Linked DNA regions of Homo sapiens: region 1 is linked to region 2. The links come from fine-mapping of genetic effects on plasma protein levels. Region 2 holds a variant in brackets. A gene starts in the other region. All regions are shown on their reverse strands.

The links. A credible set is the group of variants that fine-mapping cannot tell apart. PIP is the posterior inclusion probability: the model's chance that the variant is causal. The UK Biobank Pharma Proteomics Project read protein levels with antibody pairs (Olink). The fine-mapping took linkage between variants from a reference panel, not from the people measured, so its PIPs are less certain.
Region 1: it holds the start of EPHB4, and the variant in region 2 is the best candidate, but not a certain one, in a credible set for the plasma level of the EPHB4 protein (UK Biobank, PIP 0.51).

Annotation. Positions count from the first base shown.
Region 1 is chr7:100,823,839-100,833,439 of GRCh38, reverse strand. EPHB4 (EPH receptor B4) reads left to right here and starts at 5,917. Exons shown (of 17, transcript NM_004444.5): 1 at 5,917-6,461; 2 at 9,167-9,237; 3 at 9,509-9,601. The coding sequence starts at 6,410. It also overlaps a transcript of SLC12A9 not described here. RefSeq lists enhancers at 3,526-4,321, 5,118-5,913.
Region 2 is chr19:49,542,621-49,552,214 of GRCh38, reverse strand. RCN3 (reticulocalbin 3) reads right to left here. Exons shown (of 7, transcript NM_020650.3): 6 at 9,463-9,594; 7 at 8,582-9,109. The coding sequence ends at 9,002. Among named protein-coding and RNA genes, the nearest start is that of RCN3, 19 kb to the right of the region's middle. The variant AC/C (reference allele first, on the strand shown) is at 5,830.

The sequences.
Region 1 (9,601 bases), not on the chromosome of region 2:
TGGAGTGCAGTGGTACAATCTTGGCTCACTGCAACCTCTGCCTCCTGGATTCAAGCAATTCTCGTGCCTCAGCCTCCTGAGTAGCTGGGATTACAGGCGTGTGCCACTGTAACTGGCTAATTTTTCTATTTTTAGTAGAGACGGGCCAGGCAGGTCTTGAACTCCCAACCTCAGGTGATCCACCCGCCTCGGCCTCCCAAAGTGCTAAGATTACAGGTGTGAGCCACTGCGCCCAGCCTTTTTTTCAACTTTTTTTTTGGCCTCACACAGTGCTAGAATTAGGTAGGAGTTTGAGACCAGCCTGGACAACATAGCAAGACCTCATGTCTACAAAAAATAAAAATAAAATAAAATAAATTAGCCAGGCCAGGTGCAGTGGATCACACCTGTAATCATAGGACTTTGGGAGGCTGAGGCTAGACAATCACTTGAGCTCAAGAGTTCAAGACCAGCCTGCGCAACATAGTGAGACCCTGTCTGTACAAACACTAAAAATATTAGCTAGGCATGGTGGCACACGCCTGTAGTCTCAGCTACTTGGGAGGCTGAGGCAGGAGGATCGCTTGAGCCTGGGAGTTCGAGGCTGCAGTGAGCCTCGATCGTGCCACTGCACTCCAGCATGGGTGACAAAGGGAGACCCTGTCTCTTAAAAAAAGAAAAAAAAAGGTATAAAATCTTTGGATTGAGAGAAGAAATCACAGCTGACCTCAAATGTTTAAAATATGACAAATATCATAAATATTATACAAGCTAGAAAAATAACAACATTTATAGTAAAGAAGACTGATATAGCCCTGGAATACTTGCATTTACTACCTTTTTCTTAGATGTGTACTCTTTGACCATCTCTTCATATGATGATTTTGTAATATTATTTTCTATTCTTTCTCTGTCTTTCCTCTAGGATGGCTGATTAATTTTTGCTTAGAGATGGGGTCTCGCTCTGTTGCCCAGGTTGGAGTGCAGTGGTGCCATCACGGCTCCCTGCAGCCTAGACCTCTCAGGCTCAGTGATCCTCCCACCTCGGCCTCCCCAGTGTCTGAGAGACCATAGCCACATGCCACCACGCCCAGCTATTTTTTATTTTTTATTTTCTGGTAGAGACAGGGGTCTCACTTTGTTGCCCAGGCCGGTCTCAAACTCCAGGACTCAAGCAATCCTCCTGCCTTGGCTTCCCAAAGTGCTGGAATTACAGGTGTGAGCCACAGTGCCTGGCTAAGTTATTTTTTTTTGGTGGGAGTGGGACGGAGTCTCGCTCTGTTGCCAGGCTGGAGTGCAGTGGCGCGATCTCGGCTCACTGCAACCTCCGCCTCCCAAGTTCAAGTGATTCTCCTGCCTCAGCCTCCCGAGTAGCCTGGCTAAGTTTTTAAGGTTTCATCATTGTTTATAAAAATTTATTTGAGCTTTACAACTCTATTGGTAATGTTGAAAACTCTATCAAATTCCTTTTGTAACAGAGCTGTAAGATTTCAGGTCATTTCAAGTGTTGTCCTGCTGAAACTCACCTTCAAAACTGTTTAAATTATGGCACTTATTAACCAGGGCCGTGGAAGAAGCCAGGCAGGTGAGAGGTGCTGAAGCTTAAACTTCATGAACTTTGGGGTAAACCTGAACTTTGGACCCGACACAGTTAGGTGGCCCAGAAGAGGGGAGACTGAGATGTGGAAAGAGTAATGAGAAGTTCAACAATTTACGGAGAAAGGGGTGATTTGCTGCTTGTTATTTCTTACAATAGGAAAAGCTGTAACTCCAGGATTACTCAAAACAACTGTCACAATCTGTACAAGAAAAAGTAAACTTATTAGCCGGGCATGGTCCCCGCGCGGGGTCCCAGCTCCTCAGGAGGCTGAGGAAAGATTGCTCGAGCCCAGGAGGTCAAGGCTGCAGTGAGCCATGACCGTGCCACTGCACTCCAGCCTGGGCAATACAGTAAGACCCTATCTCTAAAAAAAAGAGCCACGTGCAGTGGCTCACGCCTGTAATCCCAGCACTTTGGGAGGCCAAGGCAGGTGGATCACCTTAGGTCAGGAGTTCCAGACCAGCCTGACCAACATGGAGAAACCCCGCGTCTACTAAAAATACAAAATTAGCCCGGTGTGGTGGCATATGCCTGTAATCCCAGCTACCTGGGAGGCTGAGGCGGGAGAATCACTTGAACCCAGGAGGCAGAGGTTGTGGTGAGCCGAGATCGCACCTTTGCACTCCAGCCTGGGCAACAAGAGTGAAACGCCGTCTCCAAAAATAAAATAAAATAAAATACAAAAGAAAAGAAAAAGAAAACTCCAGTAGCTGTTGGTGGATGCTATGCGCAAGTACCGACAATGCACCGTGTGATAGCAGTATATTGCTCTGGGCTGGGAACAAAGGTGACAGCCTAATATTTTGGGTAGGGAACAGCAAAGTGCTCTAATAATGAGGAAGGGAGGGCTGAGTTTGGTTTGGTCTGCAGAACAGGCATGGATTCAGGTAGTAACGTGAATGTTCACCCACGTTCTGTAATTTAGTGGCTACTGAATTTGCTTGCCTGGGAAGTGGTTCTGGGTGGTCTAAGGGTGGAGGACATGACTTCACACACACAGGATAGACCAAGGGTGGTTCCTGAGAATTGAAGTGAAAATCTCAGATGCCATCTCCACGTAAAGGGGAAATCATGGGATTTTTTTTCTACCAGGTTGTAATTCACCAGATGACATAAAACTATATTAATTTTTACCAGATTCTCTTTGAGGCCAGGAACCATGTTTTACAAATCTTGAAAACTAGCAATGTGATCACTCGGCACGTAGTAGATGCTCAGTAAAGATTTCATTTTTTCATTCTTTGACTGGCATACACTAGATGGTAGAAAATAGATTACTGCCTGGTGTGGGGTGTGGGCTGATGACCTGACATGGAATAGAATGTTTTCTCTCTTTCTTTCTTTCTTTTTTTGTAGACAGGGTCTCGCTATGTTGTTCAGGCTGCCCTCAAACTCCTGGACTGAAACGATCCTCTCATCTCAGCCTCCAAAAGTGCTGGCATTACAGGTATGAGTCACTGTGCCCCACTAAGATGAGTGTTTTCTATTGTTTAATTAATTTATGTTTTGAGACAGAGTTTCACTCTGTTGCCCAGGCTGGAGTGCAGTGGCACGATTTCAGCTCACTGCAACCTCTGCCTCCCAGGGTTCAAGCAATTCTCCTGTCTCAGCCTCCCGAGTAGCTGGGACTGCAGGCCTGCACCACCACACCTGGCTAAGTTTTGTATTTTCAGTAGAGAAGGGGTTTCACTATGTTGGCCAGGCTGGTCTCGAACTCCTGACCTCAGGTGATCCGCCTGCCTCGGCCTCCCAAAGTGCTGGGATTACAGGTGTGAGCCACTGCGCCCAGCCTATTTATTTATTTACTTATTTATTTACTTTATATATTTTTTGGAGACAGAGTGTGGCTCTGTTGCCCAGGCTGGAGTGCAGTGGTGCAATCTCTGCTCACTGCAACTTCTGCCTCCCGGGTTCAAGCGATTCTCGTGCCTCAGCCTCCCTAGTAGCTGGGACTACAGGTGTGTGCCATGATGCCCAGCTGATTTTTGTATTTTTAGTAGAGAGGGGTTTCACCATGTTGGCTAGGCTGGTCTCGAACTCTTGGGCTCAAGTGATCCACCCGCCTCGGCCTCCCAAAATGCTGAGATTACAGACCTGAGCTACTGTCCCCAGCCAGAAGACATAACTTTTAGAGGCTACAGGATCTGGGTACAGAGTGAGAGTGGCAAAAGGCAGGGCAGGGGTTTGGGAGAGGGTTGCAGAGAACCCCGAGGGAGAAGCTGAATAAGAGAAGGGGAGACTGGGCCTGCATCGGGGAGGGAGGAGGGAATTCCCAGCTCCAGCCTGGTCTGCCTGGCTCCAGTGAAGCCGGCTGTTTCCTGCCCTCGGTGACCGGCCCACCCCCCCCAACCCGGGCGCAGGACCCAGGCAGAACAGCAAGGAAGGGCAGGGGTGTGGGGAACACCTCTTGCAGCAGGAAGATAAGTAAGCCGGGACAAGAGGTTATCACAGGCCCGGCTGTCCTTTCTGGGACGTAAGGGCGCTTGGCAGCCCCCCAAGCATCCTGGACTCCAACGTCTCTCTTGCTGGGCTCCAACGTCTCTCTTGCTGGGCTCCTCAAGATTCTGTCCTCCGGCTGGGCGCGGTGGCTAACGTCTGTAATCCCAGCACTTTGGGAGGCCAAGGTGGGTGGATCACTTTAGGTCAGGAGTTCGAGACCAGCCTGGCCAACATGGCGAAACCCTGTCTCTACTAAAAATACGAAAACTAGCCGGGGTTGGTGCCCTGTGCCTGTAATCCCAGCTACTCGGGAGGCTGAGGCAGGAGAATCGCTTGAACCTGGGAGGCGGAGGTTGCAGTGAGCCCAGATCACGCCACTGCACTCCAGCCTGGGAAATAGAGGGAGACTCTGTCTCAAAAAAAAAAAAAAAATCTGTCCCCGCTAATTACTGTGGGAGTCTAAGTCCTTTCCTTCTGCCCCTTGGAGGGGCTGACTCCTGGAGCAGCACCCCCTCCAATCCATCTATCCAGTAACCCATACTGTTAAGTTCCCTGAAGTAGAAGGGGGTTGGTGGGAGGAGCACGGCTGTGCTGGACCCTCCCCGCTAACTGATGGGAGGGTGAGGGGAGTTGGCAGTGAGAGGAAGGGCCCCTCCCAGCCATCCCGAGGGCCCCCAGGAGCCAGACAGGAAACAGCTCAGGAAAGACAGCAGCCGCAGCCGCAGCCCCAGCCTCAGGGGTCATGGCTGCGGGCGGCGGGGAAGCCCCCCCAAAACACGAGAGTGAGAGTGAGAAGGGCGATTTGGAGATCTAGCCGGACCCCTCACCCTCTCGGACACACCCACCTTTTTTTTTTTTTTTTTTTTTTTTGAGATTTCGTCTCACTCTGTAGCCCAGGCTGGAGTGCAGTGGCGCGATCTCAGCTCCCAGCTCACTGCAACCTCCGCCTCCTAGGTCCCGGTTCAAGCAATTCTCCTGCCTCAGCCTCCCGAGTAGCTAGGATTACAGGCGCGCGCCACCATGCCCAGCTAATTTTTGTATTTTTAGTAGAGACGGGGTTTCATCATGTTGGCCAGGCTGGTCTTGAACTCCTGACCTCAAATGATCCGCCTGCCTCTGCCTCCCAAAATGCTGGGACTACAGGCGTGAGCCACCGCGCCCGCCACACCCACCTTTTCTTTACCGTTGTTTCCTCGATTTTTCTCTACTCCCTAGCGCAGCTTAGTGCGCGCCTCCTCTGGACATTTTTCAGGGCTTGGTTGCGCGCACAGTAGGTCCCCAACACTGAATGTTTATGGGGTGACTGTGTGAACGTTCGCTGCAAGGCTATCCAAACTGGGATTGCTCCTTGAGGCCCCCTGGGCGGCCGTCAATTCTCCAAAGCTTCTACTCCCTTTTCCTTCCTTTTCCCCCAAAACGCAGTCCCTGCGCCCACTAGAGGGTGGTGGGCGCATCCAAGAGCGGCATCTAGAGTCCGCAGCAAGGTCAGAGCGGGCTTTGTGTGCGCGGTGAACATTTACGTGCACGCCTGGGCGGCCCTCCGTGTTGCTGCTGGGTGTGTGTTTTCTCTGCTCCCTGGTGCCAGCCGGGTTCGGGCCTGTCCCGGGGGTCCCTGGGCCCCAGCCCCGACATGCTCGGTCCTGGACAGCGCGCACCGCCACGGCGCACATCTGGGCGGTCCCGGGGTTCCTCACCCGCCGCCCCTCCCCCTTCTCCAAACTTTCTCTCAACTTCCCGACCTGCTCCACTCGGTGCCCCTCTCCGCTTCCCTCATGAATTATTCAGTAGCGTGAGCTCCAATCAGCGCGCCCGGGGCTCACTCGCGGAGCCCCCGCGTTGGGAGAGCTGCCCCCGCCCCCCGCGCGCCCCTCCCTCCCGGGCCCGGCGCCGCCCGGCCCAGTTCCAGCGCAGCTCAGCCCCTGCCCGGCCCGGCCCGCCCGGCTCCGCGCCGCAGTCTCCCTCCCTCCCGCTCCGTCCCCGCTCGGGCTCCCACCATCCCCGCCCGCGAGGAGAGCACTCGGCCCGGCGGCGCGAGCAGAGCCACTCCAGGGAGGGGGGGAGACCGCGAGCGGCCGGCTCAGCCCCCGCCACCCGGGGCGGGACCCCGAGGCCCCGGAGGGACCCCAACTCCAGCCACGTCTTGCTGCGCGCCCGCCCGGCGCGGCCACTGCCAGCACGCTCCGGGCCCGCCGCCCGCGCGCGCGGCACAGACGCGGGGCCACACTTGGCGCCGCCGCCCGGTGCCCCGCACGCTCGCATGGGCCCGCGCTGAGGGCCCCGACGAGGAGTCCCGCGCGGAGTATCGGCGTCCACCCGCCCAGGGAGAGTCAGACCTGGGGGGGCGAGGGCCCCCCAAACTCAGTTCGGATCCTACCCGAGTGAGGCGGCGCCATGGAGCTCCGGGTGCTGCTCTGCTGGGCTTCGTTGGCCGCAGCTTTGGAAGGTGAGTTTCCTTGCGGGGGGGGGCGCACCCCGTCACTCCTGGGACCTCCCCCCCAACATCTGGGCCTCGGAGTGGAGGGGCCGGCCTCTGACTACCCCTACCCGGGCACTGCAGTCCCAAACACTTCGGACCGATAGTGCTGGAACGGGAGGGGGGCGGGGAAGAGGCGCCCGACGGGTAGTGGAGTTTTCTTTTGTTTGGGAAAGAGATGGAGTCTGGCTACGACCCGGGACATTCCCCTGCCCGGGCTCCCCGAACTCTCACTGCTGATTACATACGCCCCTGGCTGCCTTTCCTTTCCTCCCTACCCCACTATTCAAAACTATCTGCAAAGTTTCTGTCCCAGTCCCACCTCCCGCCGTACATGAGGGAAGGTTTCTGGAGAAGCAACAGCAGACAAGGCACAACTTTTCGTGCTAGGCCCTAAAACGACCCCCAGCGCCAATTCCTTAGCGATCACACCTTGATCCTCCAGTTCCACACTCCTGCAACAGGATGGCCTCCTTTGCATTCACACAGCAAACCCCCAAACCGCTCTCCCGCCCACTGCTCCTGCCCCTGGTATAGGGTGGCTCCTTGGTTTCTACAGGCTGCACCCCATCCCTTTAAATGCGGTCTAGACCCCGGCCCCAGGTGAGTCCCGGGCTTCCCTTGAGACCTAGGAGCGGGTAGAAACTGACCTACACAGCCCCCAGGTAGAAACTGACCTACACAGCCCCCACATCGCCCTAACTAACCCAGTCTATCTCCCACCTCCTGGTCTCTCCAAGCATTTCTTTGGCCATGGATCGCTGTCCCTCCTGGTCCCCTAAAGGGGGAGCCAAGAGCCCTAGAAACTCTCCTGTGTCCCTAATGTCCTTTCAGTGAGCTGCCAACACCCCCCTTTCTCTGTCTGGTATGAAAGTGGTTATGGGGCGGTAGGCTATGAGGGACTCCCAAAGGGAAGGATTCAGCGGCGTTAGAAAAACCCTCTCCCCCTGGCTGGGCAGGACTGCCCTGGGCTGGGGATCAAAGGCTAGGTGTGGGGTTGGGAGTGAGGGGAGGCTTGCCCAGCTCAGAGAACGGAGAAGGGGGAACAAAAACCATGAACGAGGGGAAGAGGAAGGCCAAAGGGGTGGAAAAACCACGAGGACGAGGTGTGGTGAGAAGGAAAGACGCAAAGAGGAAATGGTGATTGTGACACCTATTACCTGAGTGTTTCCAAGCACCAGGCCTGTGCTGAGCGCCTTACAAATATTAATTTCACCCATCCAGCAACGCTAAGGGTGGTGCTATTATTGCCCCCATTTTTCAGATGAGGAGGCTGGGGCTTAGTTAAGGTTAAGTAGTTTATCCAAGGCCCTGTGCCGCGAGGAACAGCGAGAAGTGGAGGCCGAAAGCGAAGGAGAGATAGTGACTGTCAGAAAGAGAAACGGAGGTGGACAGAGAGTGGAGGAGAGATAGGTGAGAGACATGCGAACTGACAGATCAAAGCGTGGCTGCAGCTGAGCTGGGACGCAGAAAGGGAGCCTGCGCTTGCTCTGGGCTGCGGACAGCCCGAGGCAGAGACAGTGTGTAAATTGGAGACAGGAAAACACTATCCCGGCTGGAACAATGGAGGGTGGAGACGGCAGCCTCTATCCACCCCCTTCCCAGAACCCGGGCATCCTGTCCCCAGTGAGCAGGGCTGTCTCTTGCCACCCATGGGGACCTTGCGCCTCTCACCTCAGGCTGGCTGGCTTCCCATCTGACCCCTAGCTGGAGGACATCATTTGGTCCCCAGGAAGAGGCTGCCTCACCCACCCTCTTTCTCTTCTCTCCTGCAGCTCCCATGGGGTGGGAGCCAGGTGTTCTGGCTCCCCTCTCCACCCTTCCCAGCGCCCAATGCCCCCCACATTGCCGGCCCCCGAGGGGATTCCTGTACCCTCCCTCCTCCACTCTCCACTGCCAGGGGCTGTGCAGTTTTTCCTAATCCCCCCCCTTCCTCCAGTGCCTGTCCCCTCCCCCGATGATCCGAGCCAAGCCAGGTGTGTTCACCCCTCCCATTCATACCGCCCCCCAGAATCTCCTCCCCTCTGCCTTCCCATAACCAAATCCAGATGTGAGGCCTCGGCGGGAGCCTGGGAACCCTAGCATCCCGACCTCCAGTGCTTCCTGATCAGGGCACTCGTGGGGAGGGAGGTACTGGGATGGGGGCCAGGGCTATGCCCCAGGCACGGAGCGCTCCCTTCAAGGAGGGAAGGACGGGGTGTTTGGTCTGAAAGCAGAGAGGGGTCTTGGACAGGGAATGAAATTGTGGGGTAGAGAGGCTGATTCTGGGACTTAGGGGAGGAAACGTGGAGGCTGAGACAAGAGGTTCCCCTCCCACACCAGCAGCCTCTGCTCGTGGGGGTCAGGACCAGGGCGCAGCTCTCATTTTAACCCTTTCTGAGCTGCCGCCCCTTCTCCCCGTACATTTTGATCTCCCTCCCTCCTCCAGGGAGGCCTAGATCTGGGGTATCCCAAGGGAGCCCCATGCCTACCAGATGTTGGGGGTGGGGTTGGCACTTAGCAGAAGAGGCCAGAAATCAGGCGGGTGCAGAGGGCAGGGCTTGCTCCCCTCTTGGCCCCCCAACTCCTCTAGCTCAGAGCTAAGAGGATCCACCTGCCTCGGTTCCCAGGGATCTGGTCTTCCTGACCTCCCTCCCCCACCCCAGGCACTGACTCTGTCTCTCTGTCTGTCTCAGAGACCCTGCTGAACACAAAATTGGAAACTGCTGATCTGAAGTGGGTGACATTCCCTCAGGTGGACGGGCAGGTGAGAGCTGCACCCAGGAGCTGGAGCTCTGGAGGGAAACTGAGGGAGGAGAGGGCGCCTGTGCCGCCTGCTTTCTGTGTGCCACTCCTCTCCCCTGTCCCCCCAGATGACAGCAGCCCCAGCAGTGTCGTCTGAGCCCTTCTCAGAGGCGCCCTCCTCGCAGTACCAGCAGCCCCCCTTTCTCAGTCCCTCTCACTTTATAGGATTCACCCCATGCAGCCCTCTCCCTGGCGGCTCCCCAGCCCCCTTGCTGACCTCCTTCTCTGCACAGTGGGAGGAACTGAGCGGCCTGGATGAGGAACAGCACAGCGTGCGCACCTACGAAGTGTGTGACGTGCAGCGTGCCCCGGGCCAGGCCCACTGG
Region 2 (9,594 bases):
CTGCACTCCAGCCTGGGCAGCATGAGCAAAACTCCATCTCAAAAAAAAAATTAAAAACAGGAAGATGGCTGGGCCTGGTAGCTCACACCTGTAATCCCAGCACTTTGGGAGGCCAAAGCAGGTGGATTGCCTCAGGTCAGGAGTTGGAGACCAGCCTGGTCCACATGGTGAATCCCTGTCTCTACTAAAAATACAAAAATTAGCTGGGTGTGGTGGAGCACCCCTGTAATCCCAGCTACTCAGGAGGCTGAGGCAGGAGAATCGCTTGAACCCAGGAGGTGGAGGCTGCAGTGAGCTGCGATAGCACCACTGCACTCCAGTCTGAGCTACAGAGCGAGACCCCATATCAAAACAATAGAAAATAAAAACAGGAAGATTTATTCTGACACTGCAAAGGCAAAACTATACGAACCAGGAACAAAGCTTTCGTTGCCAGAGTAGGGGAAGGAGTTGACCCCAAAGTGGGGAGTAGCAAGAGAGATTCTGGGGGGGTGTGAAGGAACAGTTCCGGATTTTGACTGTGGTGGTTACATGACTCTGGTTTATCAGAATTCAGAACTGTTCACCAAAAGGAGTGGATTTTACTGTATGAAGTTTTCAAATGCAAAAAAGGAGCTGGGAGATTTCATGTGAAAAACTAGATTTCCATTTCTCTTTTTTTGTTTTTGAGACGGAGTCTCGCCCTGTCGCCCAGGCTGGAGTGCAGTGGCCTGATTTCGGCTCACTGCAACCTCTGCCTCCTGGGTTCAAGCAATTCTCCTGCCTCAGCCTCCCACGGAACTGAGACTACAGGCGCCCACCACCACGCCCGGCTAAATTTTTTTGTATTTTTAGTAGAGACGGGGTTTCACTTATGTTGGCCAGGCTGATCTTGAACTCTTGACCTCGTGATCCGCCCGCCTCGGCCTCCCAAAGTGCTGAGATTACAGGCGTGAGCCACTGTGCCTGGATAATTTTTGTATTTTTTAAGTAGGGAAGGGATCTCACCACATTGGCCAGGCTGGTCTTGAACTCCTGACCTCAAGTGATCCACCTGCCTCGGCCTCCCAAAGTGCTGGGATTACAGGCCCCATTTCTCTTTTTAAAGAGAAATGCATGGCCAGGTGCGGTGGCTCACGCCTGTAATCCCAGCACTTTGGGGGGCTGAGGCGGGAGCGGATCACTAGGTCAAGAGATAGAGACCATCCTGGCCAACATGGTGAAACCCCGTCTCTACTAAAAATACAAAAATTAACTGGACGTGGTGGCACAGCCTGTAGTCCCAGCTACTCGGGAGGCTGAGGCAGGAGAATCGCTTGAACCTGGGAGGTGGAGGTTGCAGTGAGCTGAGATCGTGCCACTGCATTGCAGCCTGGAGACAGAGCGAGACTCCATCTAAAAAAAAAAAATCAGCCCAAGCAAGGTGGTTCACGCCTGTAATCCCAACACTTTGGGAGGCCGAGTCAGGAGGATTGCTTGAACCCAGGAGTTGGCGACCAGCCTGGCCATTGTAGCAAGACCCCATCTCTACAAAAAAGAATACATTAGCTGGGCATGGTGGTGCCCACCTGTAGTCCCAGCTGCATGGGAGACCGAAGCCAGAAGATGGTGTGAGCCCAGGAGGTCCAGCTGTGATCCCACCTCTGTATTCCAGCCTGGGTGACAGAGTGAGACATGTATAAAAGGAAAAATCAGCTTCACAATTCCCCTCCTAGTTATCTACCCAAGAAACTGAAAACAGGTCCACACAAAAATATGTACGTGATCTGGGAGGCCGAGGTGGGCGGATCACGAGGTCATGAGTTCGAGACCAGCCTGGCCAGCATGGTGAAACCCTATCTCTACCAAAAATACAAAAATTAGCCAGGCGTGGTGGCAGACACCTTTAATCCCAGCTACTTGGGAGGCTGAGGCAAAACAAATGCACATGAATGACCCTAACAGCACCATTCACCATAGCCCAGAAGTGGAAACAACCCAAAAGCCCGTCAGCTGATGAGTGGAGACAAAATGTGGTCTAGCCCGTGCCATGGAATATTACTCAGCCCTAAAAAGGAATGACGTTGGGCCGGGCGCAGTGGCTCATGCCTGTAATCCCAGCACTTCGGGAGGCCGAGACGGGCAGATCATGAGGTCAGGAGATCGAGACCATCTTGGCTAACACGGTGAAACCCCATCTCTACTAAAAATACAAAAAATTAGCCGGGTGTGATGGTGGGCACCTGTAGTCCCAGCTACTCGGCAGGCTGAGGCAGGAGAATGGCATGAACCCGGGAAGTGGAGCTTGCAGTGAGCCGAGATCGCGCCACTGCACTCCAGCCTGGGCAACAGAGTGAGACTCCATCTCAAAAAAAAAAAAAAAAAAAAAAGCAATGACGTCCTGACACGGGCTACAGTGTGGATGGATCTGGAAAACATGCTGAAAGAAGCCCAGCACGAAAGGTCACACGTACGATTGCATTTATAATGAGATGCCCAGAATAGGCAAATCCATAGCAAAAGAAAGTAGTTAGTGGCTGTCCGGGGCTGGGAGTGCAGAGAGAGAGGGGATAGTGACTGCTGATGGGGTGTGGGTTTTTTTTTTTTTTTTTTTTTTTTTTGAGACAAAGTCTGGTTCTGTCACCCAGGCTGGAGTGCAGTGGCACGATCTTGGCTCACTGCAACCTCCGCCTCCCGGGTTCAATCGATTCTCTTGTCCCAGCCTCCTGAGTAGCTGGGATTACAGGCATGTGCCACCACGCCCGGCTAATTTTTGTATTTTTAATAGAGATAGAGTTTCGTCATGTTGTCCAGGCTGGTCTTGAACTCCTGGCCTCAAGTGATCTGCCCACCTTGGCCTCCTGAAGTGCTAGGATTACAGGCGTAGCCACCACGCCCGACCAAGGGTTAATTTTATGGCCTGTGAATTTTATCTCAGCTTTTAAAATATCAGAAGATCTGACTTCGTTAGAAGCTCCACCTGGCTCTTTGCTCCCAGCGTGTTGTCAACAGCATGGGGATTTGATCTGCTGATCTGCAAGTGGGGAGGTCACCAACGGAAGAACTAAAAGCAAAAACAGTTCAAAAGTTTATTCTAATAAGCGTTGGTCAGGATGTGGAGAAACTGGAACTTGTCTACAACGCTGGTGGGCACGTAAACTGGGGAAATGAATTGGCAATATCGATTAACGCTAAAAATGCGCCTAGCCGGTGCTCCACTACCTCACTCCTGTGTGTGTACCCCAAAGACATGCGACGATGCTCAGCAAAACACGAGCTAGAATGGCTGGGCGCAGTGGCTCCTGCCCATGATTTCAGCACTTTGTGGGACTGGGGTAGGAAGATTGCTTGAGCTTAGGAGTTTGAGACCAGCCTGGACAACATGGTGAAACTCCATCTCTATTAAAAATACAAAAATTAGCTGGGCGTGGTGTTACACGCCTGTAATCCCAGCTACTAGGGAGGCTGAAGCACGAGAATCGCTTGCAGCTGGCTGAGATCAGTGAGCTGAGATCAGTGGAGTGCAATGGCACAATGTTGGCTCTCTGCAACTGGAGTGCCACAGTACTCTGGCCTAGGTGGCAGAGCAAGATTATGTCTTAAAAAACGCAGGCCAGGGCCAGGCGTGGTGGCTCATACTTGTAATCCCAGCACTTTGGGAGGCTGAGGTGGGTGGATCACCTGAGGTCAGGAGTTCGAGACCAGCCTGGCGAACATGGTGAAACCCTGTCTCTACTAAAAACGCAAAAAGTAGCCAGCCACGGTGGCCGGCACCAGTAATCTCAACTACTAGGAAGACTGAGGCAGGAGAATCTCTTGAACCCAGGAGGCGGAAGTTGCAGTGAGCTGAGATTGAGCCGCTGCTCTCCAGCCTGGGCGACACAGCAAGACTCCATCTCAAAAAACAAAACAAAACAAAACAAAAAACACACACACAAAACAAACAAACCAAAAAACGCGGCCGGAAGCGGTGGGTGACACCTGTAATCCCAGCACTTTGGGGGGCTGAGGAGGGCAGATCTCGAGGTCAGGAGTTCAAGACCAGCCTGACCAACATGGTGAAACCCCCTCTCTGCTAAAAATACAAAAATTAGCAAGACATGGTGGTTCACGCCTGTAATCTCAGCACTTGGGAGGCCGAGGCAGCCGGATCACCTGAGATCAGGAGTTCGAGACCAGCCTGGCCAACATGGCGAAACTCCGTCTCTATTAAGAATACAAAAAATGGCTGGGCGCGGTGGCTCACCCCTCTAATCCCAGCACTTTGGGAGGCCGAGGTGGGGCGGATCACGAGGTCAGGAGATCGAGACCATCCTGGCTAACACAGTGAAACTCGTCTCTACTAAAAAACAAAAAAATTAGCCGGGCAGTGGTGGCGGGCGCTTGTAGTCCCAGCTACTTGGGAGGTTGAGGCAGGAGAATGGCGTGAACCCGGGAGGCGGAGCTTGCAGTGAGCCGATATCGCGCCACTGCACTCCAGCCTGGGCGACAGAGCGAGACTCCGTCTCAAAAAAAACAAAAAAACAAAAAAACACACAAAAAATTAGCTGGCATGGTGGCCCGTGCCCGTTATCCCAGTTACTCGGGAGGCTGAGGCAGGAGTATCGCTTGAACCTGGGAGGCGGAGGTTGCAGTGAGACAAGATTGCACCACTGCACTCCAGCCTGGGAGACAAATCGAGATTCGTCTTCCAAAAAAAAATAAAGACTATTTGTACATATTTGCTTAAATCTGTGTAGATTCTCCATGGTAGGAAACACTGGCTGTCTGTGAAGAGTTGAACTTAGTGGAAGGCGTTGTTTTTAGCTTGTAGCATCCTGTATATTTCGGGTTTTGTATCCTGTGAGAGTATGGCCATTATTTTAAAATAAAATATGCAAGAATATTTTAAAACTAAAAAAATTCTGGAGAGAAGCAGTAAGTGTGACAAGATGCTAGGCAGTTTTTCACCATAAACTGTTCTGTGCAAGTAATTTGTTGCTATGTGTGGGTATTGTTTTCGATAAACAATGTTTCCAAACATGCAGCCCTCAGAGATTTACCAATATGCCCTTCCTCCCACATAAACCAGTTCTCCACATCCAGCCACTAGAGGGCAGTATGTTATCATACGAAAACGCTTGGAGTCAGACGCGCTTGGATTCAAATTCCAGCCCTCCCACACAGACAACAGCTATAAACCCTGGAAAAAACGTGGAAAACAATTACCCAAAGGCAAGGCACTGGAAGGTAAACAAAAGCAGACAGAGCAACTGGAGGGAACTTGACACTCAGAAAAAAGAAAGGCGAGTTTCTTATTTGTACAGCTTTTACTTGGGGGTGAGTTCTAGTTCATACCATGACTGGCAGCTAAAACACCAGAGGGAAATCCAGTCTTCCTAGCTTGAAGAACTACAGCAAAAGGAAGGTGAGGAGATAAATCCTGGAAAAGAAAAGCTGGAGAGAGGGTACCTGGAATGGTTTCTATAAACTCTACTCAAGTATCTTTTTTTTTTTTTTTTTTTTTTTTTTTTTTGAGACGGAGTCTCCCTCTGTCGCCCAGGTTGGAGGGCAGTGGTGCAAACTCCGCCTACCGGGTTCACGCCATTCTCCTGCCTCAGCCTCCCGAGTAGCTGGGACTACAGGCCCCCAACACCACGCCCAGGCTAATTTTTTAAATATTTTTAGTAGAGACGGGGTTTCACCGTGTTAGCCAGGATGCTCTCGATCTCCTGACCTCATGATCCGCCTGCCTCGGCCTCCCAAAGTGTTGGGATTACAGGCGTGAGTCACCGCACACGGCCCAACTCTACTCAAATATCTAGCTGACCCTGAACCACACCTGGCTGCATGGGTACACTCCAAAAAGCCCAGGTAAACCTAAAAAAAAAA[AC/C]CGAACTGGCCAGGCACGGTGGCTCATGCCTGTGATCCCAGAAATTTGGGAGGTCGGGGAGGGCGGATCACCTGAGGTCGGGAGTTCGAGACCAGCCTGGCCAACATGGTGAAACCCCGTCTCTAATAAAAATACAAAAATTAGCCGGGCGTGGTGGTCCATGCCAGTAATCCCAGCTACTCGGGAGGCTGAGACAGGAGAATCACTTCAGCCCGGGAGGTGGAGGTTGCAGTGAGTCAAGATCATGCCATTGCACTCCAGCCAGGATGACAAGAGCAAGACTCCATCTCAAAAAAAAAAAAAAAAAAAAAAAAAAAAAATAGCTATCGGCCAGGCACAATGGCTCAAGCCTGTAATCCCAGCACTTTGGGAGGCTGAGGCAGGTGGATCACCTGAGGTCAGGAGTTCGATACCAGCCTGACCAACATGGAGAAACCCTGTCTCTACTAAAAATACAAAATTAGCCAGGCGTGGTGGTGCATGCCTGTAATCCCAGCTACTCAGGAGGCTGAGGCAGGAGAATCGCTTGAACCTGGGAGGTGGAGGTTGCAGTGAGCCGAGATTGTGCCATTGCACTCCAGCCTGGGCAACAAGAGCAAAACTCTGTCTCAAAAAAAAAAAAAAAAAAAAAGTAAATTTTGAATTGAATTCTATCATGCATAAAAGGGCATACATCACATGTGGAGAACTGAATGAATTTTCATAATCTGACCACCCCTGGGAAGCAGTACCTAGATCAAGAATAGGCTATTTTCCAGCCTCCCTCTCCCGATAAGAAGCCCATGAGGTCCATTCTGGTCCCTCCCCCGCAAGGGTGAACAACATCCTGAGTTCTAACCCCCAGATTAGTTTTGCCTGTTCTTGAATTTCCTTTTTAAAAATTAATTAGTAAATTAATTTTTTTAGTAAGTTAATTTTTTTTTTTGAGACAGAGTCTCGCTCTGTCTCCCAGGCTGGAGTGCAGTGGCGCGATCTCGGCTCACTACAAGCTCCGCCTCCCGGGTTCAGGCCATTCTCCTGCCTCAGCCTCCCGAGTAGCTGGGACTACAGGCGCCCGCCACCATGCCTGGCTAATTTTTTGTATTTTTTAGTAGAGGCGGGGTTTCACCGTGTTAGCCAGGATGGTCTCGATCTACTGACCTCGTGATCTGCCTGCCTCGGCCTCTGAAAGAGCTGGGATTACAGGCGTGAACCACCGTGCCCGGCCATAAACTAATTTTTAAATAGAGATATGGTCTCTATAAATGGCGTGAGCCCGGGAGGTGGAGCTTGCAGTGAGGTGAGAGTGCGCCACTGCACTCCAGCCTGGGCGACAGAGCGAGACTCCGTCTCAAAAAAAAAGAAAGAAAAAAAAAAAGAGATGCCATCTTTATAAAAGATCATCCCAGACTGGTCTTGAACTCCTGGCCTCAAGCAATCCTTGATTAATCCTTGGGATTACAGGCGTGAACCACTGCGCCCAACCCGACTCTTAAATAACTCAAAGCAGTTTATAATCCCTCCTCTGCTCATGACACTCCAGCGACTCTCATGTCACTCAGAATAAATTCTGTGTCTCTCTGGGTCTCTATCCCCATTCTCTTTGGATCTCTGTCCCCCACTCTCTGGGTCTCTGTTTCCCTCTCTCTGAGTTTCTGTCTCCCTCTCTCTGGGTCTCTGTTCCCCTCTCTCTCTCTGGGTCTCTGTTCCCCTCTCTCTCTGGGTCTCTGTTCCCCTCTCTCTCTGGGTCTCTGTCCCTCTCTCTCTGGGTCTCTGTTCCCCTCTCTCTCTGGGTCTCTGTCCCTCTCTCTCTGACTCCCCACCCCTTCTCTCTGGGTCTCTGTCCATCCCTGTCTTGTGCCACCAAACAGGGACCACCATGACCTGCCTGCAGGGGCCTGCACAGTCTGGCCACTTGCCCCATCTGCTCTCAGCTCTGACCCTCTTCCACTGGCTCATTCCCTTCCAGCCACTCTAGCCTCCTTGCTGATGCTGCCACACCAGGCCCACTCCTGCCTCAGGGCCATTTTACTTGCTCTTCTCTCTCCCTGGAATGCTCTCCCTCCAGATCTCTCCGTGGCTCCCTCCTTCACTCCATTTACCATTGAGACCTTTCCCAGCCTCTCAGTCATCAGAACATTGCCACACTGCTACACGCTTCCCCTGCTTCACAGCATCTGTTGCGCCGTGCCATATTTTAGGTCGCTGTGTCTCTTCCTTACAGAACTGGAGCTCTGAGAGGGCAGGGCTTCCTGTCTGGTTTGTGCGCTGCAGAGTCCAGGCTTTTTTTCCCTTTTTTTTTTGAGACAGAGTCTCCCTCTGTCACCCAGGCTGGAGTGCAGTGGCGCCATTTCGGCTCACGACAACCTCCACCTCCCGGGTTCAAGCGATTCTGCTTCAGCCTCCAGAGTAGCTGGGATTATAGGTGCCCATCACCAGGCCTGGTTAATTTTTGTATTTCTAGTAGAGACGGGGTTTCACCATGTTGGCCAGGCTGGTCTAGGACCCCCGACCTCGTGATCTACCCGCCTCAGCCTCCCAAATTGCTGGGCTTACAGGCGTGAGCCACCGGGCCTGGCCCAATTTTTTTTGTTTGTTTGTTTTATACTGAGGAACGCCCTCCAATCCCTCCAACACCCAGCACCCCTCCTTCAAATGCCTGGTCCCCTATTGCATGTCTCAGCCCCCAACTCCCAGTCACAGCCCCCAAACCATCTCCAGGGCCCCCTTACCCTTCATAGAGACAGGCAGACAACAGACAGACACACAAGGTCCCGGCGCTGGCTTTTATTGCCTCCTGGCAGAGAGGAGGTGTCCCAGGCCAGGCCAGGCAGGAGAGGGCTGGGGCCAGGGGAGTTTCAGTCTATGTGGTGGAGGCTCAGATTTGGAGCTGGAGGGGTTGGGGCGGTTCTTAGAGCTGAGCTTGGGGCCAAGGGTCCCTGGGTCTGGGCTGGGAGACTCAGTCAGAAATAGGTATTGCTTATCCTCTGGGACTATGACAGCCCCTCCCTGGGGTTGGGGGTGTGACAGGGACAGAAGCCGACCCAGGGGGTCCCTGAGAGCCCAGGGGCAGGAGGATGCCTGGGACTGCATCTGCCTCCTGCGGGGCCTGGACAGGGAGGGGGCCAGACCACAGCGGCCCCTCCTCCGGTCATTGTGCGGGCCTCTGAGGCTGTGGCAGGTGCGCGGTGCTCACAGCTCATCGTGGTGCCGGGTCAGGTCCTCGCCATAGTTGGTGGCCTGACTGCCCACAAACATGTTCCAATTACCCAGGATTTCCGCTTTGCTCAGCCGCCCATCCTGGAGGGAGGGTCAGGGTTCAGAGGGGACAACACGGCCCTGCTTTCAAAAGCCCTCCCTGCATCCAAGCGTGTCCCGAAGTCTCTGGGACCCTTGTTCTCTGGGCCTCTGTCCCTTTCTCTCTGAATCTGTCCCCGTCTTGGTCCCTGTCCTTCTCTCTTTGGGTCTCTGGGTCTCTGTCCCCCTCTCTTTCTGGGGCTCCGTGCCCTCTCTTTTCCTCCCTCTCTCTGTCCCTCTTTTTTTATCCCACCTAAAAGGGACCCTGAGCTCCAGGCCCAGGTCTTGCTCCTTTCTGGAGTCTGGCCCGCAATGCCCACCCGCTCCTCGCTCCTGCCGAGGCCCCGTCACTGCACCTTGTCCGTGTCGCTCTCGTGCAGCAGGTGGTTGGCTTCCACCAGGGGCTGGTCCTGGGCAGGGGGCAGCACCCAGTGGCCCACCTCACTCCCATCCAGGTGCCCATCCTTGTTCAGATCCCGGAAGTCCCG